Homo sapiens: one gene and its partners. The protein of the gene in region 7 purifies or fractionates together with the protein of the main gene of each other region. This does not show direct contact. Each region holds a gene or a part of one and is shown on either strand. Other genes may lie near its edges.

What was found.
Region 1: the proteins of RP2 (region 7) and PDS5A purify together in Homo sapiens (affinity purification with mass spectrometry; 3 studies listed by BioGRID and IntAct, with this or other methods). This does not show direct contact.
Region 2: the proteins of RP2 (region 7) and TNPO2 purify together in Homo sapiens (affinity purification with mass spectrometry; 3 studies listed by BioGRID and IntAct, with this or other methods). This does not show direct contact.
Region 3: the proteins of RP2 (region 7) and TKFC purify together in Homo sapiens (affinity purification with mass spectrometry; 3 studies listed by BioGRID and IntAct, with this or other methods). This does not show direct contact.
Region 4: the proteins of RP2 (region 7) and TRIP12 purify together in Homo sapiens (affinity purification with mass spectrometry; 3 studies listed by BioGRID and IntAct, with this or other methods). This does not show direct contact.
Region 5: the proteins of RP2 (region 7) and DMXL2 purify together in Homo sapiens (affinity purification with mass spectrometry; 4 studies listed by BioGRID and IntAct, with this or other methods). This does not show direct contact.
Region 6: the proteins of RP2 (region 7) and STAT3 purify together in Homo sapiens (affinity purification with mass spectrometry; 3 studies listed by BioGRID and IntAct, with this or other methods). This does not show direct contact.

Annotation. Positions count from the first base shown.
Region 1 is NC_000004.12:39,897,709-39,902,010, forward strand, and holds part of PDS5A (sister chromatid cohesion protein PDS5 homolog A), read right to left. Parts: intron 2,800-4,302; coding exon 2,718-2,799; intron 1,118-2,717; coding exon 1,069-1,117; intron 821-1,068; coding exon 681-820; coding exon of another isoform or gene 648-680; exon of another isoform or gene 306-647; intron 1-305. UniProt on the Homo sapiens protein: Probable regulator of sister chromatid cohesion in mitosis which may stabilize cohesin complex association with chromatin. May couple sister chromatid cohesion during mitosis to DNA replication.
Region 2 is NC_000019.10:12,710,433-12,714,385, forward strand, and holds part of TNPO2 (transportin-2), read right to left. Parts: intron 1,182-3,953; coding exon 1,121-1,181; intron 1,030-1,120; coding exon 864-1,029; intron 342-863; coding exon 189-341; intron 1-188. UniProt on the Homo sapiens protein: Probably functions in nuclear protein import as nuclear transport receptor. Serves as receptor for nuclear localization signals (NLS) in cargo substrates.
Region 3 is NC_000011.10:61,342,428-61,346,486, reverse strand, and holds part of TKFC (triokinase/FMN cyclase), read right to left. Parts: intron 4,027-4,059; coding exon 3,992-4,026; intron 3,914-3,991; coding exon 3,829-3,913; intron 3,733-3,828; coding exon 3,643-3,732; intron 3,146-3,642; coding exon 3,029-3,145; intron 2,632-3,028; coding exon 2,512-2,631; intron 2,352-2,511; coding exon 2,214-2,351; intron 1,228-2,213; coding exon 1,121-1,227; intron 1,026-1,120; coding exon 922-1,025; intron 776-921; coding exon 742-775; intron 631-741; coding exon 541-630; intron 193-540; coding exon of another isoform or gene 163-192; exon of another isoform or gene 137-162; coding exon 1-136.
Region 4 is NC_000002.12:229,855,574-229,859,875, forward strand, and holds part of TRIP12 (E3 ubiquitin-protein ligase TRIP12), read right to left. Parts: intron 4,002-4,302; coding exon 3,199-4,001; intron 1-3,198. UniProt on the Homo sapiens protein: E3 ubiquitin-protein ligase involved in ubiquitin fusion degradation (UFD) pathway and regulation of DNA repair.
Region 5 is NC_000015.10:51,446,762-51,449,804, forward strand, and holds the end of DMXL2 (dmX-like protein 2), read right to left. Parts: intron 2,433-3,043; coding exon 2,223-2,432; 3' UTR 1,030-2,222; downstream 1-1,029. UniProt on the Homo sapiens protein: May serve as a scaffold protein for MADD and RAB3GA on synaptic vesicles. Plays a role in the brain as a key controller of neuronal and endocrine homeostatic processes.
Region 6 is NC_000017.11:42,381,674-42,385,975, forward strand, and holds part of STAT3 (signal transducer and activator of transcription 3), read right to left. Parts: intron 1-4,302. UniProt on the Homo sapiens protein: Signal transducer and transcription activator that mediates cellular responses to interleukins, KITLG/SCF, LEP and other growth factors. Once activated, recruits coactivators, such as NCOA1 or MED1, to the promoter region of the target gene.
Region 7 is NC_000023.11:46,857,058-46,861,359, reverse strand, and holds part of RP2 (protein XRP2), read right to left. Parts: intron 1,373-4,302; coding exon 1,258-1,372; intron 1-1,257. UniProt on the Homo sapiens protein: Acts as a GTPase-activating protein (GAP) involved in trafficking between the Golgi and the ciliary membrane.

The DNA of each region.
Region 1 (4,302 bases), on a different chromosome or scaffold from region 7:
TTAAAAACTTAGCTGGGTGTGGATGCGTGTGCCAATAGTTCTAGCTATTCAGAAGGCTGGGGTATAGGATCACATGAGCACAGGACTTTAACGCTGTAGTGAACTATGATTGTGCCACTGAACTCCAGCCTGGGTGACAAAAGCAAGACTATCTCAGGAAAAAAAAAAAAAAAGCTGAATAAATGAATGCATAAGTTTTCCCTCCTGATAGCTTTAAGAATATTGGTTTTAAATGAGTTCAAGAGAAGAATGAAGACAAAAGTCTAGATAGGAATTTACTTTATCTGTAAATGAAACCAGATATATGGCAATGTTACTACTACTAATTTATTGACGATTATTTCCATTCTAATACATGAAAGAAGAAAATGCACATGTACACAAGCATTCAGAAAATACTTATCATTACTCAATGAATGTCTACTAAGTTCAAAGTACTTTATCTTGTAAAATTCCTAAGACCAATCTCCCTGGCTTAGTTCTTTAGTTATTTTCCTGGAATGTGGCTGAGAGTGAATGGTAAATAGAGAATTAACTTGACAATAGATATACTCCAAAGTAATTCAGAGCTCACAATATTGTTACATTTACACAAATCACTGTATGTAAAACAGGCTTTAATAAAATACATATTTCTGTAAGTAAAGCTAGAGAAAAAGTGTGAAGTATGATTTACTAACCACACAAATATCTGCTTGTTTGCAAGAACAGGTTGGGCTAATTAATAACTCCAACTGAGACCGAAGTTTCTCATCATCGCCGAGAACCTGGTTAAATTTCTTCACAAAATCTTGTGCTTTCCCGGGGTCAGGCAAATTCTCTATAAAATTAAAAGAGAATCAATATTAGAGAAGGAAAAAAAAAAAACTATTCTACTAAGCTAAAAACAGGTGCCATCAAAATATTGCGGAGCCACTAAAAGAAAATCAGCCTAGCTGGTTCTTAGAAACAAAATTAAGATAAAGATTATTTTCTTTTACTTAACATTAAATCAGTAGTCCCACTGGGTAAATACTTTGTCTGCATTTACGTTTACTACATGTTTAGTGAGTAAATAAACATACTCACTTGCTATGGTCATCAGTTTTCCAAACATGGCAGAACAGTTAGCCTCTGACTGAAATTTAAAACAGAAACAAAAGAACAACTAGTCATATGTGTTAACAAATTTCCCTAACAAAAATCAATACTCATTACTGTACATTTTTCATGACGTTAAAAAATAAAGTTCATCACAGTCTGCTCAATGGAAAATGGTTTTACCACATATATACGCTAAACTAACAACAAAGAATTACATAGTAGCAACTATTAAGACAAATAGAAGGAAAGGAGATGTTGGGAGGAAGGTACTTAAAAACCCACAAGTATATAACTTTCACAGGAAAGTTACATTGCCAGAAGATTGAAAAAAGATCAATGAAGCAATCAACATATAAACTTATCATATCAGAATTACTATGAAACTACATGCCACAAAAAATTAACTAAAAATATAGAGAAGAAACTTTTTTTTCTGCAATAGAGTTCTGTTAGCTACTTTGTGGCCCGTTACTTAAATACCTTCAGGAAAACCTCCTTTCTAAAACGTACTTCCCTTTCCTGTATCCCATAAAACATTACTTATTAGTTTTCATTTATACTAAATTTGAATAATTTAGTTCAAAAGTTAGAAAACTATGCCCCCATGAGCTACCTGTTTTTGTTAGTAGTTTCGATGGAATATAGTCATGTCCATTCATTTATTTATCGTGTATGACTAATTTTGCAAAGGCAGGGTTGAATATCTGACCACAGACTCTATGCCTTGCAAAATATGTTTTTGCTATCTGTTGATTTATTTTCAAAGTTTGCTAGGCTAGGTGCAGTATCTCACACCTGTAATCCTAGCAATTTGGGAGGCCTAGGCAGGCAGACTGCATGAGCCCAAGATTTTGAGACCAGCCTGGGAAACATGGTGAAAACTCACCTCTACAAAAAACATACAAAACCTAGCTGGGTATGGTGGAGCACACCCGTAGTCCCAGCTATTCAGAAGGCTGAGGTGGGAGGATCACCTCAGCCCAGTGACATCGAGGCTGCAGTGAGCTGTGATCATGCCACTATGCGACAGCCTGGGCAACAGAGTAAGATCCTGTGTATTAAAAAAAAAAAAAAAAAAAAAAAAAAAAGTTTGCCCGCCCCTGTTCCAGCATCCATGTGTCCTTGAGGGGTCTGTTTATATGGTCCCCTGGTTAAGAACACCTATTCTAGTGAACACACGTAAAAATGTAAAGTTTTTTTCCCCAACCTTGCAAAAATTTAATGGCATTTCTTTTTTAGTTTGCCATTGGCATATTTATAGGATTGATATCTGATATTCACTCTACACTGAGAGACCATGAATCATGCAGTGAAAAAGAAATATGATGTTTAATGTAATTTTATCTCAAAATTTAATTCTAATTATTTGAAAATTGATTAACTATAAACTCTTAGTGTCTGAAAACTTTATATAAACTAGAAAACACCATTTCTTTGCTCACACTAGAAAATAAGAGTTTGTTATATTTATTTTAAATGGAAATTTAGCTTGGACAACTACAGAAATTATATTTAACTGACATTTGGAAAATAAAACAACTGAGATACTTTTTCCCTGCTTCATTACGTAGAACTACAGAAAATCTGAACAGTGACTATAATAAACTATGAATTTAAACAAATCATGAACCTACTGTAGGCTGCTTGTGCAAATCCAATAGTTCGCGTACATGGCTCCGAAGCATGTTCTGACACTTCCACATTTCGTTGAGAGCTCTGTAAAGTTATGAATATGAAAACACACATTACATAACAATACTGGAAATTATTCAGCTTTACAACCTTTCTTGTTGCATGCTGTATATACACCATTCTTCTACATCTACCTAAAAGTTTAAATACCGGGAAATATATTTATTAGGATTTAAAACAATTTAGTACAAATGGTAAATATAAGCCTTCTTATGAGAGAAAATATTTGAGAGGTTTAGAAAGATTAATAAGTAATACAGGGATTGAAAGATGTACTAAATACAGGTAGCTAGAAAGTTTTGGTACAAGGAAAGAAAATCTCAAAGTGCAAGGGACATAAAACAAACTGAAAAACATGTATACGCTTGGAGCACAAGGCATGTGTGTGGAGCATAAGGAAGCTGGAGCATTCCACAGACACAGATCAAATCATGAAGGCCTTATTAAAAAGGCTAAGGCATATACATGAAGCACTATAGACTATTTTGAAAAATGAAGTATCAAAAATGATGCAGATTCAAGATGCCAAATTTACATTATTGTGTTTATTCTAAACTTTTCTCTCTCCAGGAACACAGATTTTCTTCTCTCAGAAATCCCATCCATATTTCCAGGTGCCCAGATGACCTCTGAGAATTACTAATCTCTAAACACTCTTTGTCAGATATTTTGAAATGTAAACAAACATCAAAACCTTAAGCAAGGAAAGGGATTAGTAACCATGATACAACACTATCGTAATAGAATTTCTGCCAAAATGACAGTCTTTTTTTCTTTTCTTTCTTTTTTTTTTTTTTTTTTTTGAGACAAGTCTCACTCTGTTGCCCAGGCTGCAGTACAATGGGATAATCTCGGCTCACTGCAACATCTGCCTCCTGGGTTCAAGCAATTCTCCGGCCTCAGCCTCCCTAGTAGCTGGGATTACAGGCGTGCACCACCATGCCCAACTAATATTTTTGTATTTTTAGTAGAGATGGGGTTTCACCATGTTGGCCAGGCTGGTCTCGAACTCCTAACCTCAAATTATCTGCCTGCCCTGGCCTCCCAAAATGCTGGGATTACAGGGGTTAGCCTCCACGTCCGGCCTAAAAATGCAGTCTTAATCTAATAATGCAGGAACACTTGAAGAAGCCACAATGGCAAACAGTCAAATTCCTAACTCAAAATTCTCTCTCTTTTTTAAGACAGAATCTCACTACATTGCCCAGGATGGTCAAGCTTCTAGGCTGAAAAGATCCTTCCATCTTCAGATCAGAATTCTTAATGACATCACTCATTTACTTTGTGTATTTTTGACAAAAATTACATATACGATGGTGTACAACATAATATATGTATATATTGTAACATTTACTTTAAAAAAAAAATCTATTAAAGTGAAATGACCACACATCCTGGTTGGCCTGGGACAGTTTGATTATGCTATTTAAGTAAAAATATCAATAGTGATCCCTTTCAGTCTGAAAATAATCCAGTTGGACCATTAATCATATGGCCATCTTACACAGAGAAGATCTGAATATGTTC
Region 2 (3,953 bases), on a different chromosome or scaffold from region 7:
GCCTTGCACTGTGGGGCTCCAGGGGTTCCTTTCAGGCCCAGGAACCAAGGGGAGAATTGAGATCTCAGAGCTGTTTGGAGTGGGGTGAGTAGGCCTCCAGGGAGAACTGAGGCATTGGTGTGGCTAGTAATGTGGGCCAGCCCTACAGTCTCATGCCAGCACAGGGCTCAGAGATCAGGCGCACTCACCCTCAGCAATGGCGCCCAGCACCAGGATGCCCGACTCCTTGACCACCCACTCGGGGTGGAAGAGGAGGCCTTTGAGTAGTGGGAGTAGGTGGGGCAGCAGTTCCTCCCGGAAGACATTGGCGAGGACGTCCAGTGCAGCCGCTGAGCACTTCCCTGGGGAAGGGGGAACAATGGGGAGGCTCAGGGCGGCCCCTCAGGCAGGTGGCCGACCCTCCTTGACTGCACTCCCAGGATCAGAGATCATGCTCAGAATCTTCACGATCAGCTTCTTTTTTTTTGTTTTGTTTTTTTGAGACGGAGTCTCACTTTTTCCGCCCAGGCCGGAGTGCAGTGGCGCTATCTCGGCTCACTGCAAGCTCCGCCTCCTGGGTTCATGCCGTTTTCCTGCCTCAGCCTCCCGAGTAGCTGGGACTACAGGCGCCCGACACCACGCCCGACTAATTTTTTGTATTTTTAGTAGAGACGGGGTTTCACTGTGTTAGCCAGGATGGTGTTGATCTCCTGACCTCGTGATCCGCCCGCCTCAGCCTTCCAAAGTGCTGGGATTACAGGCGTAAGCCACTGCGCCCGGCCACGATCAGCTTCTAATCAGCTTCTGCCTCAGCTTCTAGTCACCTCCCAAGAGGGAGTCCAGGGCTTGCCACCCCACCACCACCCCCAGGCAGGGGCACACACTCAAATTCCAGTCGGACAGAGCATCATCATCATCGTCATCCTCCGCGTCCTCGGAGCCATCAGGCCGCTCAGCCTCGTGGGGCAGTGTGACCGTGCGTGACTTGTGGAAGCGTGGCTTGATGTCCTGCTCACTGTCGGGGACAGCCTCATCCTCCTCCACATCCCCCTGGGGGACAGGCAGACTGTTAAGTACTTTGGGGACCACAGCCGCGACACCCACGCCCATGCCCACCCATGCTGGGTGGGCCCTGCCTGACCTTGAGCAGGATGATGTCAATTTCCGAGTACTTCATCCCATTCACCAAGATGGGGATCAACCTGCACAGAGAGGGACTGTTTATGGGGATGCAGGGGCCGTGGCAAAAGTTGGGGGGAGGCACAGCTTGGGGAGGAGGCAAACAGGTGCCAACAGAGTGACCAGCCCCCCAATCAGCCACAGAGCAGACCCTGCAGAGCATGATGGTACTGCTAGGTGCAAATTGATCCATTTCCCTCTGGGGAATTATCGGAATCTAGTCTCTGCCGCTATGATTAGGATATAAATGATACCACTCCTGCCTCCAGAGAAAGGTTTTTTTTTTTTTTTCTTAAGAAGCAGGGTCTAACCCTGTGGGCGGCAAGCCACCCAGGCACCGAGGCAAGAGACAGAGGACACGAGCTGTTCCAGTATAATAAAATATAAAACAAGAATAGTTATACCAGATATAGATCTTAGATATGATTATATATGAATATCATTAATCATTAGTTTGTAGCAATTACTTTTTATTCCAATATTATGATAATCCTCGCTCTATAATCATAGCCTAGGAAAAACCAGGCCATACAGAGATAGGAGCTGAGGGGACATAGTGAGGTGTGACCAGAAGACAAGAGTGCGAGCCTTCTGTTATGCCCGGACAGGGCCACCAGAGGGCTCCTTGGTCTAGCGGTGACGCCAGCATCTGGGAAGACGCCCGTTACCAGGCGGATCATGGTCCAGCGGTAGCAAAAGGTGTCAAGGAACAACACCCGCTACTTAGCAGACCAGGAAAGTGGGGGAGTCTCCCTTTCCCCGGGGGAGTTTAGAGAAGACTCTGCTCCTCCACCTCTTGTGGAGGGCCTGACATCAGTCAGGTTTGCCCGCAGTTATCCGGAGGCCTAACCGTCTCCCTGAGATGCTGTGCTTCAGTGGTCACACTCCTAGTCTGCCTTCATGTTCCATCCTGTACACCTGGCTCTGCCTTCCAGATAGCAGTAGTAAATTAGTGAAAATACTAATAGTCCCTGATATGCAGAAATAATGGCATACGCTGTCTTTCTCTTTGTCTACTCTCCCTCTCTGCCTCGGCTGCCAGGCAGGGAAGGGCCCCCTGTCCAGTGGACACGTGACCCATGTGACCTTACCTATCATTGGAGGTGACTCACATTCTTTACCCTGCCCCTTCTGCCTTGTATGCAATAAATAACAGCGCAGCCAGACATTTGGGGTCACTACCGGTCTCCGCGCATTGGTGGTAGTGGTCCCCCGGGCCCAGCTGCCTTTTCTATTATCTCTTTGTCTTGTGTCTTTATTTCTACACTCTCTCATCGCCGCACACAGGAAGAGACCCACCGACCCTGTGGGGCTGGTCCCTACGTAACCCTATCACCCAGGCTGGAGTGCACTGGTGCGATCACAGCTCACCACAGCCTCATGCTCCTGGGCTCATGCAATCCTCCTGCCTCAGCCTCCCAAAGTGCTAGGATTATAGGCGTGAGCCATGGCACTCAGCCTGCAGGAAAGCTCTTGACCCAGGCCTGGCCACTCAGTGGATTATAGACCCCTGAATACACTGAAAATCTTGGTACAGTGCCTGGTCCCTAGCACAACATTAAGGCAGGGACATGCGGTCCTATTCCTGGCCACTTTCCTGAGATAGGGCAGAGACTAGCCAGAGTAGGGGAGCAAACAGACTAGGCAGCCAGCCCCTCAGCTGCAGCCCAGAGTTGTAAGTGACAGAGCCTTCATCACCTGCTCATCTAGGTCTCATCACTCCCCAGGAGCCGTCTGCCCAGCCCTAGACTGTTATCAATAATTTGGGGCCGGGCACAGGGGCTCACACCTGTCATTATAGCACTTTGGGAGACCAATGCAGGAGGATTGCCTGAGCCCATAAGTTTGAGACCAATTGGGACAATATAGTGAGACCTCACCTCTAATGAATGATAAATAAATAAATAAATAAATAAATAAATAAATAAACATACAATATGCTGGGCGTGGTGACTCACGCCTGTAATCCTAGCACTTTGGGAGGCCAAAGTGGGCAGAACACAAGGTCAGGAAGCTGAGGCAAGAGAATCGCTTGAACCCGAGGGGCGGAGGTTGCAGTGAGCCGAGATTGTGCCACTGCCCTCCAGCCTGGGCAGCAGAGTGAGACTCCGTCTCAAAAACAGAAATTTCAAAATAATAATAATAATGATCTGGGGGCTGGGTACAGTGGCTCGCACCTGTAATCTCAACACTTTAGGAGACCAAGACAGGAGGACTGCTTGAGGCCAGGGATCCGAGACCAGCCAGAGCAACTTAGCAAGACCTCATCTCTACTAAAACTTAGAAAAGATTAGCTAGGTGTGGTGGGATGTGCCTGTAATCCCAGCTACTTGGGAGGCTGAGGTAGGAGGATTGCTTCAGCTGGGAGGTCAAGGCTGCAGTGAGCCATGATTTTGACACTCCACTCCAGCGTGGATGACAGAGCAAAACCTTGTCTCAAAATAAAAAAGAAAAAAATGATTTGGAGAGAGGCAAGCAATCCAAGTTTGTCAAGGAGGGTCAGTTTTAGGACTTTTGTTGGAAACACTGGTCGAAAATTTCTTTACTCTGAAGTTCCTAAGCTGGAAGGGCACAGAAGGCTACAGCACTACCCAGAGGGAAGGTTGTGCCTAAGAATGAAGCCAACACAAGGGAAGCAGATCTGAGACCACAAAGATGCCTTTCACATCCTTTGAGCTCCTGGATACAGCCATACCCCTGAAGCCTTTGTTGATTTTTCATTTCTTTTTTTTTTTTTTTTGAGACGGAGTTTTGCTCTGTCACCCAGGCTGGAGTGCAGTGGCACGACCTTGGCT
Region 3 (4,059 bases), on a different chromosome or scaffold from region 7:
CCAAGATGGCCCGGAGGATGGCAGCAGCTGCCACCGCCCCGGGGTCTGGCTGCTCCAGCCGTGCTGAGCTGATATAACTGGCTCTTCCGGCTCCAGCTTCCATATTCTTGGTGGCCTCGGCTGCAGCTTCGGCACTCTGGGGGATGGGGTGTGGGAGCAGGTTCAAGGGCAGATCACCAGGCCGCCTCCTTCCTGCCATGGGCAGAACGTCTCTGCCGTGCAGCCTGGCCCTGCACGCCCTTGCCCTGGCTCTGCCAGCACCCTCTGCTCTGTCACCAAATGGAAAGTCACTTCTCATCTACTTCCAGCAGGGAAAAGGGTCACCATTCACTGAGGCCCTGTCACATCCCAGGCAGTGTGCGGGGCTCTACATATTTCCTTAGCCACATAACCACCTTCTGAGATAGGTGCTCATCTCCATTGTACAGAGAAGGAAACTGCGGTCCAGGAAGGTTATTAACTTGCTCAGGGTCACATGGAGACAGGAGTCTGCTGGCTAGAAGCCTGTCTCCCCAGGTGGCTGGGCCCAGCCTCACTCACCTTGACTGCTTTGGTCAGGACTTGTAACAGATCAGCTCCTGGGCTCTTCCAGGCTTGGAGCTCCTGCCCCGCTGCCCACAGAGAATCCAGCTGGACAAGGTGAAGGAAAGGGGGCTGAGCACGGGCCCTGCAACCGAGGGTGCTCTTTAGACTTACAGGGCCAAAAGGAGAAAGGTCTGAGGCCACAGCCTGAGTACATACCATAGTCCTGTCCCCTGGAGCAGCCTTGCCATACCTGGCAGGGAAAGAGAGTGAAAGAGGCTCACTATAGGGAACCAAGGGAATCACTCTGAGGGTTGGGCTAGGGCCTGGCAGGGCGCAGATGTCACCAAACACCTCCCCCAGCCCACCCCTGGTCTGATGCACAGGGCTCTGGCTCACTTCTGCATGGCTTCCAGGCCGGCATCCATGGCAGCAGACCAGGCTGGGAGGCTGGTCTTGGCCTTCAGGGGCTGTGCAGCCGCAGTCAGGAACAGGCCATAGAGCTGGGGAAGATGACAACGCTGAGCATGTGGTGCTGGCCTGGACCCCAGCCAGCCCAGCCACCTCCCTGTCAGCCCTTCAGCCCCCAGGCACCCACCGCCCCAGATGAGCCTCCCATCTTCTCCAGGAGCAGGACAGACAACTTGGAGAGCAGCTGGGCAGGGCTGGCAGGGGGTGGGCCCTCCTTCAGCCACTCCTGGATTGCTGCAGGCAGAGAGAGATGGGGAGGAATTCAGAGATCCTCCCTCCATCTGCCAGACTTCCAGCCAGCACCAATGAAGGCTGGAAAAGGCCGACAGGGAAGTGGAATGAAGGCTTCCCAAGATCCCTTTCCACATCCAGTGTGCAGTCTGGAGAGGGGCTGGGCTGCGTAACCGAAAGGGGCCTGGGGAGGTGAGGCCTGCCCCGAAGCCCTCCACTTGACGCTCTGTACTCTGCTCCCTGGCTTGGTTTTTTTCTCCTTAGCCCTTTGTGCTAACATCCTCTGTGTTTTACTGATTTATCTGGTTGACTGTCTTCCACCTAGAACATAAGCCATGAGGGCAGTGATTTCTGTCTGCTCTGTTCACTACTGTATCCACAGCTGAGAGCAGTGCCTGCCCCACGGCAGGCACCAAATACCTTTTTCTCGAATGAATGATGCTGGACAGTTAAGAGCTTTTCACTGGTCTGGGTAAACTGAGAAAAATAAGGACAACAGAATAAGTTCGCCTTGAGTTGTAAGTTATTCACTGTGAAGGATTTCATTTAATTCTAAGATAACAACCTCATACATTTGTGGTGTTAAGAAGGTCCCTGTCGGCCGGGTGTGGTGGCTCATGCCTGTAATCTCAGCACTTTGGGAGGCCAGGGCGAGCGGATGGCTTGAGGTGGGGAGTTAGAGACCAGCCTGGCCAACATGGCGAGACCCCGTCTCCACTAAAAACACAACAATTAGCCAGGCGTGGTGGCGCATGCCTGTTATCTCAGCTAGTCAGGAGGCTGAGGCAGGAAAATCACTTGAACCCGGGGGGCGGAGACTGCAGTGAGCCGAGATCACACCATTGCATACTCCAGCCTAGCGACAGAGTGAGATTCCTTCTTAAAAAAAAAAAAAAAAAAAAAGGAAGGTCCCTGCCTTCAGGGAAACAAGTGGAAGGGGGGCTAAGGTTTTGTGAATGACCTCACTTGGCAAAGTCCCTGGCACCAACCTCTGGCCGCACGGCTGTGGGTGGTGCCACAGTCGCCGTCACCAGCAGCCCGGTCCAGGGCATTCAGGTGTTCCTCCAGGCCCAGGAGAGTGCTGCACACCCGTTCCAGCACCAGCGCCATCCGCTTCGAGGCTGAGCCTAGAAAGGGAGGATGCTGAAGAACAGGCCCACCAGGCCCTTCTCACAACCACACTTGACTATGGTGGGAGGTGTGGGTGCCAGGGCCCCTACCCGCCCCACCGTATACTCCTGCATCCTTTGGGAAGCCTGTCCCTTCCCCAAAGGCAGGGGTTGGTACCTCCTGCAGCAGTGGAATCAGGGGCCTCCTGGGGCTCGGCAGGGGCTACCCGGCTCCGCTTCCGCCCAGTAATGGAGACTGCAGCCACGTTAGGCCAGGCTGCTGCAGTGGTTTCAGCATCTAAGGGCAGCAAGATAACTCTCTTAGACACGGCTGTCCAGCCAGGGATTCAGCAGGGCTTGGACCCTCCCATCCTGACCCTGGTGGCCTGGCTTTCTCAGCAGCCCTGGAGGAAGGGAGTCCACCTCGACAAGCATGGACTGAGTGCCTACTGTATACAGGGGTATGGAGAGAGGGTCCCTGGGAAAGGGTCAGGCCTCTCTGAGGAGGATCCTAATACCAACTCCTTCTAGTCCAGTGAGAGCTGGAGAAGGCTGGAGAAGCCCAGGAAGAGCCTTCTTCACAGGCTCCAGAGCCCTGATTGTCACGGTCAGCCCTGACGGGGTCTCCAAGTCTCCCTGGCTCCTTCCAGTTACAAGGAGCCCTGGCTTGGGTGACCCCAGGTTCCAAGTCTCACCTATCAGTTTCAGGAGAGGCTCATCCACCAGCAGGAGGGTGAGAGAAATGCCAGGCATCTCCAGTGCTGACATGAAGGTGCCCACCAGGGCACGGGCAATCTTCACCCCGCGGCCCTCTGCAATACCAGAGTGTGGCAGTCCAAAAGGGAAAAATGGGCATCAGGGAAAGAAAACAACAGAAAAGCAAGGACCTTGGAAGCTGGGGCTCTGAGGTCGGGAGGGAGATGTCCTGATTTCCTCCTGGCAGGCATCCCTCAATAACCCCACAAATGACCACGTTCCCTGGAGGTGTCCCCTACGTCGGGGAAGATGAGTAATTACAGGTCTCATTTACTCAGTTCGTGCCAGGTGCTGGGCGCTGTGTTGAGTGTCTTACATATGTTTAATCTCACTTAATCCTCAAAACAACGGTATAAAGCAGGTACCATTATTATTACCCCCAATTTGCAGACAAGAAAACAAACAGAGGCTCAAGGTATCCGGCAATTAGGTGGCAGAGAGACGATTTAACTCAGGCTTATCTGACGCACAGTCCGTGTTCTCTGCCATCACAAGACCCTCCCTCAGCCCTTTCCAAAGGGCTGTAGGATCCCCTTCCCAGTGCATGGCTCACCCAGGGAGCGGACGGTAGCGTCGGCTATGATGCCCAGTTCCAGGAATGACAGGCCACCCAGGTTGTTGACCATCATCACAACTGAGGAGCCTGCGGGTAGACATGACACCCCAGGTGAGACCCTCTGGGCGTCTCCTCCCCAGAGGTTTAGGAGGGGTTGGGAGACGCGGGCGAGAGGCTACCCACCGGGCTGCACAGGCACATGGGACGCGTTGGTGGTGTTTGTCATGTGGTCGAGCATGAGTTTCACAATCTCATCGGCGGTTGCCATCTGTCAGAGGGAGCCAGGAATGAGCTGCATCTGGGGGGCCTTGGCCTTAGGGCGGCCTGTGCCAGAGGGACCACCTACCTTTATCCGGCGCACACCAGCTTCCCCGTGGATCCCTGCGGATAGATGTGGTCACTGCTGACCCACTC
Region 4 (4,302 bases), on a different chromosome or scaffold from region 7:
ACAGTAAAACACAGAAACTAACAAGGGTTTAAAAAAAAAAAAAAAAAAAAAGAGAAAAGAAAATGCTTCATTCAAGGTCACACCTACTACCCCCATCTTCAAATCCTAACTCTGCCAAGTATGAGGTATATTACTCAGAGAAGTTATTTCATCTCCTTGGAATACATTTCCTTGATAACTATCCTAGGCTGGGCATGGTGGCTCAGGCCTGTAATCCCAGCACTTTGGAAGGCTGAGGCGGGCAGATCACCTGAAGTCGGGAGTTCGAGACCAGCCTGGTCAATATGGCGAAACCCTGTCTCTTAAATACAAAAATTAGCCAAGCATGGTGGCATGCGCCTGTAATCCCAGCTACTTGGGAGGCTGAGGCACGAGAATTGCCCGAACCTGGGAGGTAGAGGTTGCGGTGAGCCAACTGCGCCACTACACACACTCCAGCCTGGGTAATACAGCAAGACTCTGTCTCAGAAAAAAAAAAAAAAAAGTGTATCCTAAAGCACCATTTTTTTTAAAAGAATATGTAACTGCATATGTAAAATACCTGGTACTTATTTTATGCTACACAAACGCTGGTTCCATTCTCTTGTTTCAACAGCTTAGGCTACGATGAGAGATCAGAACTGGGATAGTGGCAGTGAAAACGGAAAAGTGATTTAATAGTGACAACAGAACACAGATACTGTGCAAGTGAATGAAATAATGGTGAAATGAGTTTTAAAATACTAAATTAGTTTGTGACTATGTGCTGAGCAGGCTTAATGGAATTATCTGGATTGGTTTTATCAAACCAGCAGCAAAATGACACTGCCAAAACTCTTGGTGTTTCCTGATTGAAACACCAAGGAGAAAATCCCACTGATTAGCCACTGGTAGAGTTGGGTTTTCTTTTAAAAATCAAGTTAACAGACTATATAAAGAAAAGAAAGCTGATCTCTACAAAGGACCAAGGCCATGACACTCAAGTACAATCTGCTATTGCCTGGCCCTAGAACCCTCCTACACATAAGAGATGAGTTCTTCAAGTGAGGCAGACTGGAAGGCAGAAGGGGAAGTGAATCCTAAGCAGCTTGCTGTAAACTCAACCTGGCTCACTGGCTGTGAATATTACATAGCAGGACTGACAGACACAAAACACAGGGAGGAAAGGCAGCATAAAAGCTGACATATGTAACTCCAATTATCAATAAAGCATTGGAAGGACAAATAGTTGGTTGTCCTTTTAACTTGGACCTTTTTTTCCTTCTCACTTCAAGATACTGATCTAGCCTATCTTAATCCTTTAAACTTAAAACATTTTATACAGATGTTCTGCATATTTAAAATACCAAAACAGAACAAAGTTCAATCTAAAAGTAAAATATGTTACTTCACAATAACCTATCATACAGGTTAAACATAAAATTTTTTATATAGTACCTACTATTAATAGTATTGTCATTTCAGGTAATATGTGAATCAACCAAAAGTAGTTTTAGACTGCAGTGTTAAATTAAACAGAGCTAATAGTTCTGATTCAATTTTAAGTTAGGCTGATTCAATATGAGCTATACTTTGACAAGAATGCTAGTAGACACTATATACAATCTTTTTAAACCAAGAAAACATTATAGCCCTACCCAAATGTAGATCTAAAATCCATCAGAGAAGAAAAGATGCTTAAAAGCAAGCTTCCTAATTAGGTATTATAAAATTAAAATGCTTTTAAAAATTGTAGAGATAAGTGCTTTATTATCCTATTTGTCCTTTATAGGTTTCTGAAATAGAAATAAGGAAAGAAGCCTGGGCACAGTGGCTCACACTTATAATCCCAACACTTTGGGAGGCTGGGACAGGTGGATCACTTGTCCCAGTTCAAGACCAGCCTGACCAACATGGTGAAACTCCCTCTCTACTAAAAATACAAAAATTAGCTGGGTGTGATGGCGCACACTTGTAATCTCAGCTACTCAGGAGAGGCTGAGACAGGAGAATTGCTTGAACCCAGGAGGTGGAGGTTGCAGTGAGCCAAGATCGTACCACTCACACCACTACTCCATCCTGGGCAACAGAGTGAGACTCTGTCTCAAAAAAAAAAAAGAAGGGAGGAAAGAAAAGAAAGACACTAGCATTCCCCAGATGAGCAGCTGGTTCCCTGAAGAAGTCTTTTGGTAAAGAGAGAGGGAGAAGAGTTCCTGGATATCTCCAAAACTGACTCATGAAGGAATGCACATAACGCTATGTTTCTTCCATCTACTTTCTGTTTCTTTGCTTGAATGTATTCTCAAAACACAAATTCTTTCTACTCCACTGTAAACTTTTAGAGAGCAATATTCTTACTCACTTAGGACACAGAGTAGTGTATATAAGAGTAGTGAAACATAAGTAGTATTCATCTTTAGACAAAACTCCTTAAAAGACTGTGAGATATTACATATGAAAAAGTTTAATTTACATTGAGGTATATTTATAGTAATAACTTAATTCACTGTATCTACACATCAAGAATATCTCATATAAAAAAATATATTTGGCCAGGCATGGTAGCTCACACCTGTAATCCCCACACTTTGGGAGGCCGAGGTGAGCAGATCACTTGAGGTCAGAAGTTTGAGACCAACGTGGCCAACACAGTGAAACCCCATCTCTACTAAAAACACAAAAATTACCCAGGCATGGTGTGCACACTTGTAATCCCAGTTACTCTGGAGGCCAAGGCAAGAGGATTGCTTAAGCCCAGGAGGCGGAGGTTGCAGTGAGCCGAGACTGCGCCACTGCACTCCAGCCTAGGCGACAGAGTGAGACTCCATCTAAAAAAACATATATATATTTGATCTCTGATCATGGCAACTCATAACTAAAAAGAACTCCTAACTAAATGATAATTTTGTATGTGGTATAGAAGAAAATCCAACTTTATGTCCCATCCTGATATTAGGAAATCAGTGAAGTAGGAGATGCCGCGAGGACCAATAAAGACACAGACACTAAAATGTGATGGTTTCGTAATAATAGGAAGGTAGTATTCCTTACCTGTCTCAACAAAACTAAATGTAGTAGCACTTACTACATGCTGTTATGTACTTAATTACACAGACAGTAATACATCTAAGATTATCTAAGACTGGGGGGAAAAAACCCTTAACTTTAAAGCATAATTGCTTTTGACAAACCAAGAGAAACTTTCTTTAATTAAAGAAAAATACCTTTTTGTAAACTTACTTGCTAATTTGGCCTGTAATCCAGAAGGTCCAGGTTTTGATGTCTCTGACTTAGAAGACCCTGGAAGAGACAGTTTTGTTTTAGGAAGGCTAACTTTAGGGCTGAAACGAGCAGCCCAATCAAATTTTGAAGAGCCACCAGTTTTACTCTGTTCCTTTTCCCTGCTACTTCTTCTGGGGCTGGGACTGGACGCTGAACGGGAACGCCTGGCCTTGTTCTGATCTTTTCCTTGTTTCACTCTGGCACCTGGTGGTACAGTGGAGGAGGCCGAGGCTACAGCAGAAGACGAGGAGGAAGTAGAGGCAGCAGAAGAAGAATCAGTGATGGTGCTACACCCAGCTTTGGCTGAGGTGGCTGATTTTGAAGCCAGCTTGGTAGGTTTCGCAGATCTCTCTTCTGCACCAGTTGATTCAGACCCGGAGCCACTCTTTACACAAGAACTCTCTGTCCTTTTTCTTTTCTGACTCCGTGAACCGCCAGTGGCCCCACTCTTCCTGGTATGAGCCTTGCTTGTTGATGGTGATTGTGCAGATTTCAGTTGTTGCTCCTGGTCTAAATGTCTCTTCTTTGACTTACTATGTGGCTTATTTGTTTCTGAGGGAGATTCAGTATGCTGAAGTGCTTTTGGTTTTTTTGCAGAGCTAGGAGAATTGGTCCTGTTGTAGTCTGGACTAGCACTGCGCTTCACTCCTCGAGAATTGTCTTTCTTAGGCACCTGCCCCGTTTTTTGTCTTTCTGAAGTATTGGCTCTGTCTGGATCCTCTGGTTGTGGAACTATCACAGCAGATGATGAACTGCAGCTTCTAAGAGGTTAGATAAGAAAACAGTTAATATCAGCCTGTCATAATTACAACTGTCATATATAATGCTTTCAAAAAATAAAGTATGAATATGTTCCTACTAAGTCCAGTATTAAACATAGGTTTTCAGAAGGTTCAAATCTGTAAAACGAAATAAAAGAACAAAACAAAAGCAGATGTGACTTTGGATACTAAAATATCTGATTAAAAGATAAGGGTGTTCTTTAGCCCAAAGATTACTGACACTAACACTCGTAATCACAAAACAAGAATTAAGATTACAAGAAAAACAACACTTAATTGT
Region 5 (3,043 bases), on a different chromosome or scaffold from region 7:
CCCATTCTGTTCTTGTGATAGTGAATAAGTCTCAGGAGATCTGATGATTTTATGAAGGGCAGTTTCCCTGCACACGCTTTCTTGCCTGCTGCCATGTTAAGATGTGCCTTTGGTCCTCCTTTTCCTCCTGCCATGATTGTGAGGCCTCCCCAGCCACGTGGAACTATGAGTCCATTAAATCTCTTTCCTTTATAAATTACCTAGTCTCAGGTATGTCCTTATAGCAGTGTGAGAATGGACTAATACAGACCTTCTGTGTACCTCTCCCTGTGCCCCTCTGTGGCCTTTGGCCTGCGAACTCTATCCTCATTATATTCCCCAGACTCGCAGTTCTATCATCTTGGCAACTTGGAGAAACCATTAGGCTCTGCCTGGGTTCTCTCCCTGCCTGTGGCCTGGAAACTTTCTTGAGGTGGTAAGTTGGGACAATTAAAATGCTCACCTCTCAGGAATCACTGTCCCTCCCTACCTGATGCTTAATGTCTTGAGAACCATTGTTTATATATTTTGTCGTCTTCTTTCTTTTAGTTGTTTCAAGCTAGAAGGTGAATCTAGAGTCTCTTACTGCTTTTACCTGACAGAGAAAGTTCTCTTCCCTTTTTTCTGAAAGCTCCTTTGAATCAGTTTTGCTTTAGGCATTGAGATGTCACTCACAAGCTTATTTTCCTGGCTCTTCTTATCAGTGGGCATATTCTGACTTCCCTTACTTACTTAGGAGCAAGCAAATAGCCAAGACTCAGATTTGAGTTTTGGGTACGAGGTTAGTACTTCATTCAATAAACTTCAAATCTGTCTGGAGAAGGTATAGTGAGGTTAGCTCTTGCCCCGCTAAATCTCAACATTGTGTGCTTTCTCTGTCTGGCTCTCCACTGTATCCCATTTCCTAGAATGGCTTTTGGTATAGAAGGTATTCAGTAAATACTTACTTATGAATGAATAGACTGCCAAATAGCTTGCAAATTCTCTAACAGTTAAACATTTTATCAAATTAAAAATCTCAATGGTCAAAAACAGTATCAAACTAAAAACTCTAACAAATAACATTTATTTTTCTTTTACATATATATTTCACAGCCTGAACATCACATCTTCAGAGAAAGTTACTTTTATGCCATTGTATTTACTATTTACCACACAGGCATTGAACATTCTCATTAACATGATAAGACAATTTGCTGGTAAACATTTAAACACACAGACATTAGTTTCAGTATCTCAACATATTTTTGGTCATAACCAAGGAAATACATCAAAATAATGACAACATTGGCTAATATTTTACAAGCAAATATTTAACTCTGCATAGTTTATACAATAGGCTGTGGCAATAAATAATGTCACCAATCTCATCAACTATTAACTGGCCACAAGAAGCCTAACATTCATTTTAATTATGATATGAAATGCTCTATTGGTGTAGTTTCAACATATCCTTAAATGTTTGGGTGTTTAACCTTGAATACACGAAAAGAAAAAGTACTAAACTGGACTAAGAAGGTGTGTTTGGTTAACTACAAATATGTCATGTTCACATAGTACATTCCTAACATGAAGGCAAATATTTAAATAGAAAAACTAGCAGTCCAAAAAATGTGAATGTGCAAATTGTGAGTAAAACATTGCATTTAAATTTGCACTCATTTGCAAGTTACAGTACTAGCTCAGTATAAACACTAACAGGAAAAATATTCAGCAGGAAAGAATGGAAACGGCCTCTCACAGCAGAGAACTGGTCACTGCGCACTGCTCCACAGCTAAGAAAGTTTTCCAGGTGGTCTAGCGCTCCTAACAAACACCTTATGATTATCCTTCATTCAACAGAGGAGGAGACTGCAGGCATGCTTCAGTCAGTGGTAAGAACAGGAAGAAAAACCCAAATCAGCAACATTTTCTTCCTTAATTTGGTATAAACGTCCTTTTCATTATTTCAAGTTACTAATTTGCTAATCTCAAATGTTTTCTGAATCAGGTTTGCTAAATGCTGTAAAGAATAGCTATCCTTCATACAATACTAGGTTTTATTTTTTTTAGTATGTCAGCATAATAAGGTACATGCGCATTCATTCCACCAACCTGTTTAGATAATACTCAGCTTGGGTCATATTCAAATTCTACACAGAGATTCTCTGTTTTCAATACAACTGCTTAGAAAGCAGAATTGCCTAGTGATGACTGTAGTGTGCCTTTTAACTGAAATGTATATAAAAATAAAACCCCAATCTTTATAGAATGTCAAGAATTCTGTTAGGGATGTTAAAAGCATTGGGCAAAACCCTGGTTTTCAGCGTGCCATCTGCACCACAGGAGAAGAGCCGATTGCCCTGGATGATGTCAATCTGCATGACTCCAGCCCCAATGTTTCGAAATATGGACTGCTTAGCATGTTCACTTTTAAATGAATGAATTAGGCCATGGCCTGTCAATCTCCAAACCTAGTGCAAAACAAAAGGAGTTAAAAATATATTACGAAAAGACCAAAAGCAAAAACATGGCCCTTCTGCTCCCTTGGCCCAAGTGATCTCACTAAAGCCCAACCTTCCCACCCACTGCCTCTTTCCTAAGAGCTTATCTAAGTGGGAAATGATAACACCACTCCCACGATTCATTTACTGTCCTCCTTCCATATTTTCCTTCACATCCTCTTGTGGCTTCATATTAACCATATGTAGCCCATCTCTAATTCAATTAACTATTTGAGTTAATTCAGTTAAATGTGTTCCTCATGCTGAGCTAGGTCCTAAGGCTATGTAAAAGTAGTGTGGTACAGACAGTCCCCTACTTACGATGGTTTGACAAGACTTTTTGACTTTATGACAGTGTGAAAGCAATACGCATTCAGCACGCTCCTTGGCTTATCCTGAGGTTAGTCTCAATAAACTCATAGTAAGTTGAAAATATTAAGTTGAAAGTATGTTTTTCAACTTTAACAATATTTTTAACTTATAATGGGTTTGTTGGGACATAATCCCACCATAAAGTCAAGGAGCATCTGCACTAGCTCACTTACTGGAAACGTCACCTCCACCACACACAAGAGTACTGA
Region 6 (4,302 bases), on a different chromosome or scaffold from region 7:
ATGAGCCAAGATAGCGCCACTGCACTCCAGCCTGGGCGACAGAGCGAGACTCCATCTCAAAAAAAAAAAAAAAAAGGAATTTGGAATAAATATGTCTCCAAGATAACCTGGTAAACAGAAAGGGCTGCAAAAAATCTGAATAAAAGCAAGTCAATTAACAGGATACATGTAAAACACACATTTTATATTCCTACAAGTCTTTTTTTTTATAATAGCATGTTATTACTTTTCTAAAAAGGACAAAATAACTTATTTTAATGACATTTAAACCCAATTATTAACAGAAAAGGGATAAGAACTGTGGTTCCTTGGCCTCCTTTCCCCTTGGTTTAGTTCTCCTAAATTAAGAACTTCTACTTATAGCTCCCTGAACACACAAGGCTGTTTTAAGCCTCTGCACCCTCATGTTCCTTCAGCCTTGAATGCAACTTTTTGTAACGCAACTTCGTGGAAAGAATTCCTATTCATCCTATAAAACCCTATTCAGGTGTTCCCATCTGATAAAGCCCCTCAATAATGATGACTTTCTCTCACTCCTGAAAAGAATTAATCTCTTTTCTTGGATATTTAGTAAGAACTTAGATTTACCGAGCTCTTACTATGTGCCAGGCACTATGCTAAGCATTTTATCCACATTATCTTATTGAATCGTCAACAGTACCTACAAGATAAGCACTGTTATAATCTTCTTTTACAGATAAGAAAATAGAGGCTCAGATTCTGACTAGGAAGTGGCAGATCCAGGATTCAGTCCCAGATCTGTTTGACTTCAGAGCCAGAGTCTTGAACCACTCACTGCCCTGTCGTCTCCCCTGTCCTACTTCCATACTGGCATAGCACACACCTCGGTCCCTGCAACATCTCCAGTTTCATGAAAACGGACAATATTTCATTATCCTTGGATCCTGCCTGACGCAATACCTGGCTCTCAACATGTTTGCTGATCTGAATTAAAGAGTTGCGGTAATCCTTTTTTTTTTCTTTTTTTTTTGAGATGGAGTCCCACTCTGTTGCCCAGGCTGGAGTGCAGTGGCACGATCTCAGCTCACTGCAAGCTCCGCCTCCAGGACTCATGCCATTCTCCTGCCTCAGCCTCCTGAGTAGCTGGGACTACAGGCGTCTGCCACCACGCTGGGCTAATTTTTTGTATTTTTAGTAGAGGCGGAGTTTCACCGTGTTAGCCAGGATGGTCTCGATCTCCTGACCTCGTGATCCGCCCACAGCCTCCCAAAGTGCTGGAATTACAGGCATGAGCCACCACACCCGGCTGGGTAAGAGTTGCAGTAATCCTAACATGACAAATGAGAACTGACCATAACAGAAATTCATTCTTCCATATGTTATTCCCAGGCCTCATAACCTCTCCTTCCTCTGAAGACATGTAGCATTCAGTGTAGCACTGTCAGAATGTCTCACTCTGTCCCCCAGTCTGGAGTGCAGTGGCAGGATCTTGGCTCACTGCAGCCTCCACCTCCCAGGTTCAAGCAATTCTCCTGGCTCAGCCTCCAGAGTAGCTGGAACTACAGGCGTGTGCCACCACACCTGGCTAATTTTTGTATTTTTAGTAGAGACGGGGTTTTACCATGTTGGCCAGGCTGGTCTCAAACTCCTGACCTCAAGTGATCCGCTCACCTCTGCCTCACAAAGCGCTGGGATTACAGGCATCAGCCACCATGCCCAGCCTGTTTTTGCCTTTTTTTTTTTTTTAAAGAAACAAAGTGGTCTCACTATGTTGCCCAGGCTGGTCTTGAACTCCTGGGCTCAAGCAATCCTCTTGCCTCGGCCTTCCAAAGTGCTGGGATTATAGGCATGAGCCACTGCTCCTGGCCCGATATGCTACTCCTTTTAAAAACTGGAGGCATCTCAAACAATTTACCACCAAAGGACCATGTGGCCATACTGACTAAAGCGCACTACACTTTACGCTTACGTCTTGTAAGCCAAGGTGTCTAACAAAGAGTATATAACCACCATATTAATTCTTTACACCATAATCAATAAGGGCTGGGCCAGCCCAGCAATGCCATCCTCCTGGATCTCACTGAGGCTGCTCCAGAACACCAGAAGTTCTTCAGGATTCGGGGATGTCCCTCAAGTACTCTTTCAGTGGTTTTTATAAATGACTCAAAAGTTATGGTGAAATTTTTAAGTGCCAAAGACATAAAATATGAGTGGTGGTTTGTATCCAATCAAAAATCCTCAAAAAACACTTCTGCACTTAAGCACACTATACTTTTTTCACCCAAAGTACCAAATCAAACTAGTCAGGATACCTACCTTTGTACAATGTCAGACTCCAGTTAATAACTCCCCTAGGGCAGAGGGCATATGCACTGATTTACTTTGTACAAATTAACCAGCATCAGGCAATCAGGCCTGTGCCTAACACATAGTAAGCACTCTATGATTAAACATCAGTGCTTCGGCTCCAAAGTTTTATTTATTTATTTATTTATTTATTTTTTTTTTTTTTGAGACGGAGTCTCGCTCTGTCGCCCAGGCTGGAGTGCAGTGGTGCGATATCGGCTCACTGCAAGCTCCGCCTCCCGAGTTCACGCTCTTCTCCTGCCTCAGCCTCCCGAGTAGCTGGGACTACAGACGCCCGCCACAACGCCCGGCTACTTTTTTTTGTATTTTTAGTAGAGATGGGGTTTCACCGTGTTAGCCAGGATGGTCTCGATCTCCTGGCCTCGTGATCCGCGCGTCTGGGCCTCCCAAAGTGCTGGGATTACAGGCGTGAGCCACCGCGCCCGGCGCCCCGAAAGTTTTAAAAGCTTCCCCTACAAAAGAACAGAACTGAAATTCCTTGGTCCTGTATTCAATGTCTTTTGTAAGTAATCACTTCTCCCCTACTTACCCTCCTAGTCTACCGGGCTACCAGGAATTTTTTTTTTTTTTGGAGACAGGGTCTCACTCTGTCACCCAGGCTGGAGTGCGGTGGCGGGATCACGGCTCACTGCAGCCTTAACCCCCGGGGCTTGGGTGATCCTCCCACCTTAGTCTCACCAGTAGCTGGGACTACAGGTCCACGCCACCAGGCCTGGCTAATTTTTTTTATTTTTAGGGGAGAGGGAGTTTTACCACGTTGCCCAAGCTGGTCTCAAACTCCTGGGCTCAAGCAATCCTCCTGCCTCAGCCTCCCAAAGTGCTGGGATTACAGGCATAAACCACCGCAAATTCTTTACACCTATCAAATTCCACCCATTATTTGGGACCCAGTTGAAATCCCTCTTTGGCAAAAAGACTTTCTAGACAACTCCAGGCCTCATAACCTCTCCTTTCTCTGAAGATCTGTAGCATTCAGCCTAGCACTGTCCAATAGAACGTTCTATGATAACAGAAAAGTTCTACATCTGTACTGTATGTTCTTTTATGTAGAACAGCTACCTTGTTAGCACAAGTGTAAAGTCTCACCATCTCTTTGATGACAACATGTTACATTGGATGGTTAAAACATTTATCAGCTCCCCCAGTAGACTGCAATTTCTGTGAACAAGATACAACTTATTCTTCATAGCAACTCTGACAAAGTTGCAAAAGGTATATATATGTTGGCCAGGCAAGGTGGTTCACGCCTGTAATCCCAGCACTTTGGGAGGCTGAGGTGGGCAGATCTCTTGAGGTCAGGAGTTTGAGACCAGCCTGGTCAATATAGTGAAACCTTATCTCTACTAAAAATACAAAAATTAGCCGGGCGTAGTGGCGGGCACCTGTAATCCCAGCTACTCAGGAGGCTGAGGTGCGAGAATCACTTGAACCCGGGAGGAGGAGGTTGCAGTGAGCCACGATCATGCCACTGCACTCCAGCCTGGGTGATAGAGTGCAACTCCAACTCAAAAAAAAAAAAAAAAAAGTATATATTTGTTGATTTGCACATCACCTAAGAAAACCATAAGCTAAGAAGGTTTGGACTCAGGCGTCTGGAAAGTTGGTCACCACCTCTACCCCACCTCATATCTGAATGTCAAGAGACACGTAGAGGCAGAGAAGTTAAAGCAACTTTCTAGAGACAGAAATGACCACTGATCAAGCCACAATGCACTCTGGTTTAAATGACATTTAGGTCATGACTGTCCTTAATCTAAAACAAACCTAGATTAGTATTTCTTTTCATTAGTAAATAGCTAAATTCTGATGGTAAATTATGCTGACCAAAAACAGTTCCTCACTTCCCAAGTTAGACATAGCAATTAGAAAAATAATCTAAGCAAGCTCCATTTGTATTTCTTTTTTCACCTGTTTATTGAATATTTACCTCCCATGAAGTCTTTCAGCCTATTGGTGGTATTTTACTGTTCAGAT
Region 7 (4,302 bases):
CAGCAATAGAACATTTTACTTCTTCCATGTGGAATGTTCTGTTACTTAAATGCAGATATTATATTTGGGTTGGAGCAATTCTACAATACGACTTCACTAACATCACACAGGTACATAAATCATTAATTTAGCTCTACCGATATGCTCACTTTATTCCTAACTCTCACACTTTAGGATGTCCAATACACTTATTACCTGATTCAATTTCCAAAAGCTGCTAAGAAGTTAAACATTCATTTTCAAGCTTCCAAATGTTCCCATGTCAAAATGGTTGCATCAAAGGGGCCAGGTCAGAATTTCCTACATATATTCTGGGGTAGATTCATGCAGTGGGTCACAGCAAGTCCTTGCTACCACTACAGTAACCACAGAAGTATTATCAAATACTGCATTAATACTTACCAGCTGAGTTACACCCAGCATTACTTATTATCCTAACATTCCTCTAACATTTGCATACAGATTTTTGCAGTTTATTATAATATTTTTATACATAAAGAGCACATAAAATGCAGATGTGCCCTCTCTCTAGGGAATACCCAATCAACACTGCGTATTACTATACATATTTGCTCAGGCCAGTCAAGGAAAGCCTGATGAGCCTTGAGCAAACAATGGCCCCACTCTGAACAGATAAAGAGTACTCTGTCCTCTAGAATCAATACACCTTCAAATACAGGTAGGCAGACAGTAACCCTTCAAGTGGGCACACATACTCAAGTTCCTCTCTTTGAAGACCTATATCCAGTATCTGAAATTTATTGGTGGCATTTACCCACTAGGGAAAACAATTCTAATTATACATGGAAGTTAATCAATCATATTAAATACATAAAATAGTATACCACTTTATATTTCTTATTTCTTTTCCAGTATGATTAAAGCACACTGAAGGTAGAAAGAATCTTCATCAAGTGCTTTGCAACTCTGAGCAGGGAGCATGAAATATTTATCACTACACTATAAAGGTACAACAATAATACAACAATTAAAATGATAATAAGATACATAATAAAATGTGACTTTCAGTACTAAGAACAGAGGATAGGGAAAAAAAAAGAATGCCTAATTTCTAGTTAGTTGTCTAGGGCTCCTTGAGTGATGTGAAATTTTGACATTTCAGAACAATAATAGAAAAAAAACAAAGAACAAATGAGAAAGAGAAGGCAATGTAAAACAAATGTTAAAGGCAAAAGTAAATCAAATCAGCATGTAAAGAAAATATCCACAAAAGTATACCAATCATCCAGAAGGTACCTTTGTTCAGAAGAGGAAGGAAGTCAGGTGCTTTTTCCCGAAAAACCCTTTGAGCATCCTCAGCTTTCATGGACACTTCCTTTGTCTGAACTAGGAAAAAGCCTTTACCAACCATCTGTGAAAATAAAATTTCATTGAGATTTTAAAATGAACTTCTGAGACTAAAACAATGATTTCCTATTCTAGTATTTCTCTGTATAAAATGCAACAACAGCACACTGATTTTTGTTTTAATTATAAGTCTAATTCAGGGTGTTTGCTATAATAAGTTCTCACTATATGAGATTCTTTCTTACAGATGGGTGGTTCTGGTTTAGTACTGCAGTTAAGGTTAAGGGTCAAATAAATGTGAATTATCTCTCAAGTTTAAAACATGATTAAAATTTTTCTACAACCAGATGGAAGTTTTAGTTTGGTGATACTGCAAATGTCCAATAAGAAGAGAATGGTTAAGTAAATTATGGTACAGTCACATGATGAAATGCCACAGTTCATTACATTTATCACAGTTCATTAAATACAACAAAGATGTTATAATAAAATGAGGAAAAGCTTATGTAATAATGTTAATTTTACTTTTATTTGTTTATTTTTCTTTCTTTTTTTTTTTTTTTGAGATAGGGTGTCACTCTGTTGCCCTGGCTGGAATGTAGTGGTGCAATCATAGCTCACTGCAGCCTCAAACGCCTGGGTTCAAACGATTCTCCCACCTCAGCCTCCCAGGCAGCTAGCTGGGACTACAAGCTCGTGCCACCATGCCTGGCTAATTTTTAAAATTTTTTTTGTAGAAACAGGTTCTTGCCATGTTGCCAGGCTGATCTTGAACTCCTGGGCTCAAGCCATCCTCCTGCCTCAGCCACCCAAGATGCTGGAATTATAAGCATGAGCCACTGTACCTGGCCAATAATGTTAATTTTAAAAGGCATGATACAAATTTATATAGTATAGCACAATAATGGTAGATCACACTTATGGAGCACTTACCATGTGGCAGGCAGTTTTATGTACTTTACATATATATATTTAACCCTCTCACGAAGTAGGTATCATTACCCTCATTGTACAGATATGAAAACTAAGGCGCACAGTGATTAAGGAACTTGCCCAAGGACATTCAACAATTAAGTGACAGAGCTGTGATTCAAACCTAGTTAATCTAATTACAGACTAAATAAATTTAAAAATGATTCCTAAAAAGATTATTCAAGGTATGGTACAATTATGTATTGATTTTAAACTTATTTTACTCTTTCTTATTTCTATAATTCTCCACAATGAGGGCATATTAATTTTTAAAGTAATTATGAAAGTAGTTTTTAAAAATGCAGTCAGCCCAGCATCATGGCTCACACATGCATCCCAAGCACTCTGAGAGGCCAAGGTGGGAGGACTGCTTGAGACCAGGAGTTTGAGACCAGCCTGGGCAACACAGCAAGACCCCATCTTTATAAAAAAAAATTTAAAATTAGCCAGGTGTGGTGGTGTGTGCCTGTAGTCCTAGCTACTCAGGAGGCTGAGGTGGGAGGATCCCTTAAGCCCAGGAGTTAGAGGCTACACTGAGCTATGATCTCACCACTGCACTCCAGCCTGGACAATAGAGCAAAACCTTGTCTTTAAAAAAAAAAAAATGTAGTCATATTCCAACCACTTAATTTTTAGCAAAGCTTGTTAGGTTTTTAATAATTAAAAGTAACATATATTCTCAACACAGAACATTTGAAAAATAAAAAATAGAAATGAAGAAATATCAACCAGGGTGCTGCAACTAAAAGATGCTACTGCCATACAGGTATACCCTCCCAGTTTTCTTTTTCTCCCATTACAGAAATAATATATGCTCACTGTTAAATCCATAGAACTACAAAAAAAGAAAACCCTGCTGTTAATCAACTGCCTAAGAATAAGCATGCCTGTTAACATTTAAGTATCTATAACTTTCCAGACTTACCTACTTAAAAAAATCAGTTACTTACCTAATATTCTACAAATTTTCACTTACTTAATTGTGACATTTTCTACATAAAGTCAGTTTTAATGGCTGATAGTATTTCATCCTATGGCTACATTATTCCATACCATTCCATCGAATTTTATTAAACTCAAATCCTATTTCAGAACCCTCATTCAATGCTGCCTCCAAAAAAAGAAACATACATTTAAAAATTGTAGAGAATTACATGGACATCACTGCCAGATGACTGTAAAATAAAAATATCAGAAACAATTCTACCTCTCTTATTTTCTAGAGTGCTTATCATCTCTGATTTTATAAACACAAACTGATGAGATTATGATGATTACTTCAAAATAATGTTACCTAAATAATAAACTATATTTTAATATTTCACTGCAGATATTTGAAGAGACTCCTTTTCATGAAAATTCTACTTTTAAAGACTTGAAAATAGTGGTAACTACCCAACTTCAATTTCAGATGATGAAGTACTCTCAAACTATTTTACTCTATTTTATCCTGTACATATCTGTGATGTAGGTAAGAGAAGTCGAGGAAAGAAAAACAATTTTTATTGTTTGTTTGTTTTTGAGACGGAGTCTTGCCCTCTCGCCCAGGCTGGAGTGCAGTGGTGGGATCTCAGCTCACTGCAACCTCCGCCTCGTGGGTTCAGGCAATTCCCTGCCACAGCCTCCCGAGTAGCTGGGATTACAAGCACCCACCACCACGCCTGGCTAATTTTTGTATTTTTAGTACAGACGGGGTTTCACCATCTTGGCCAGGCTGGTCTTGAACTCCTGACCTCGTGATCCACCCGCCTCGGCCTCCCAAAGTGCTGGGATTACAGGCGTGAGCCACTGCGCCCGGCTGGAATCTGATTTTTAGGTGAGAAAACCAAAGTCTAGTAACTTCTCTTGGCTCCCTATGGAATGTCTTTTTGCTTTACCCAGCCTTTTTGGACTTCCTAACCTCTCTCAAATTGTATACTTCCTATTGCGAAAAAAAAAAAATCATTATTTAATGCATTAAAACAATGTGAAACAAAATTCTGTAATCCTCCTGGGGTTTAACAAATATAGAGTTAGCAATCA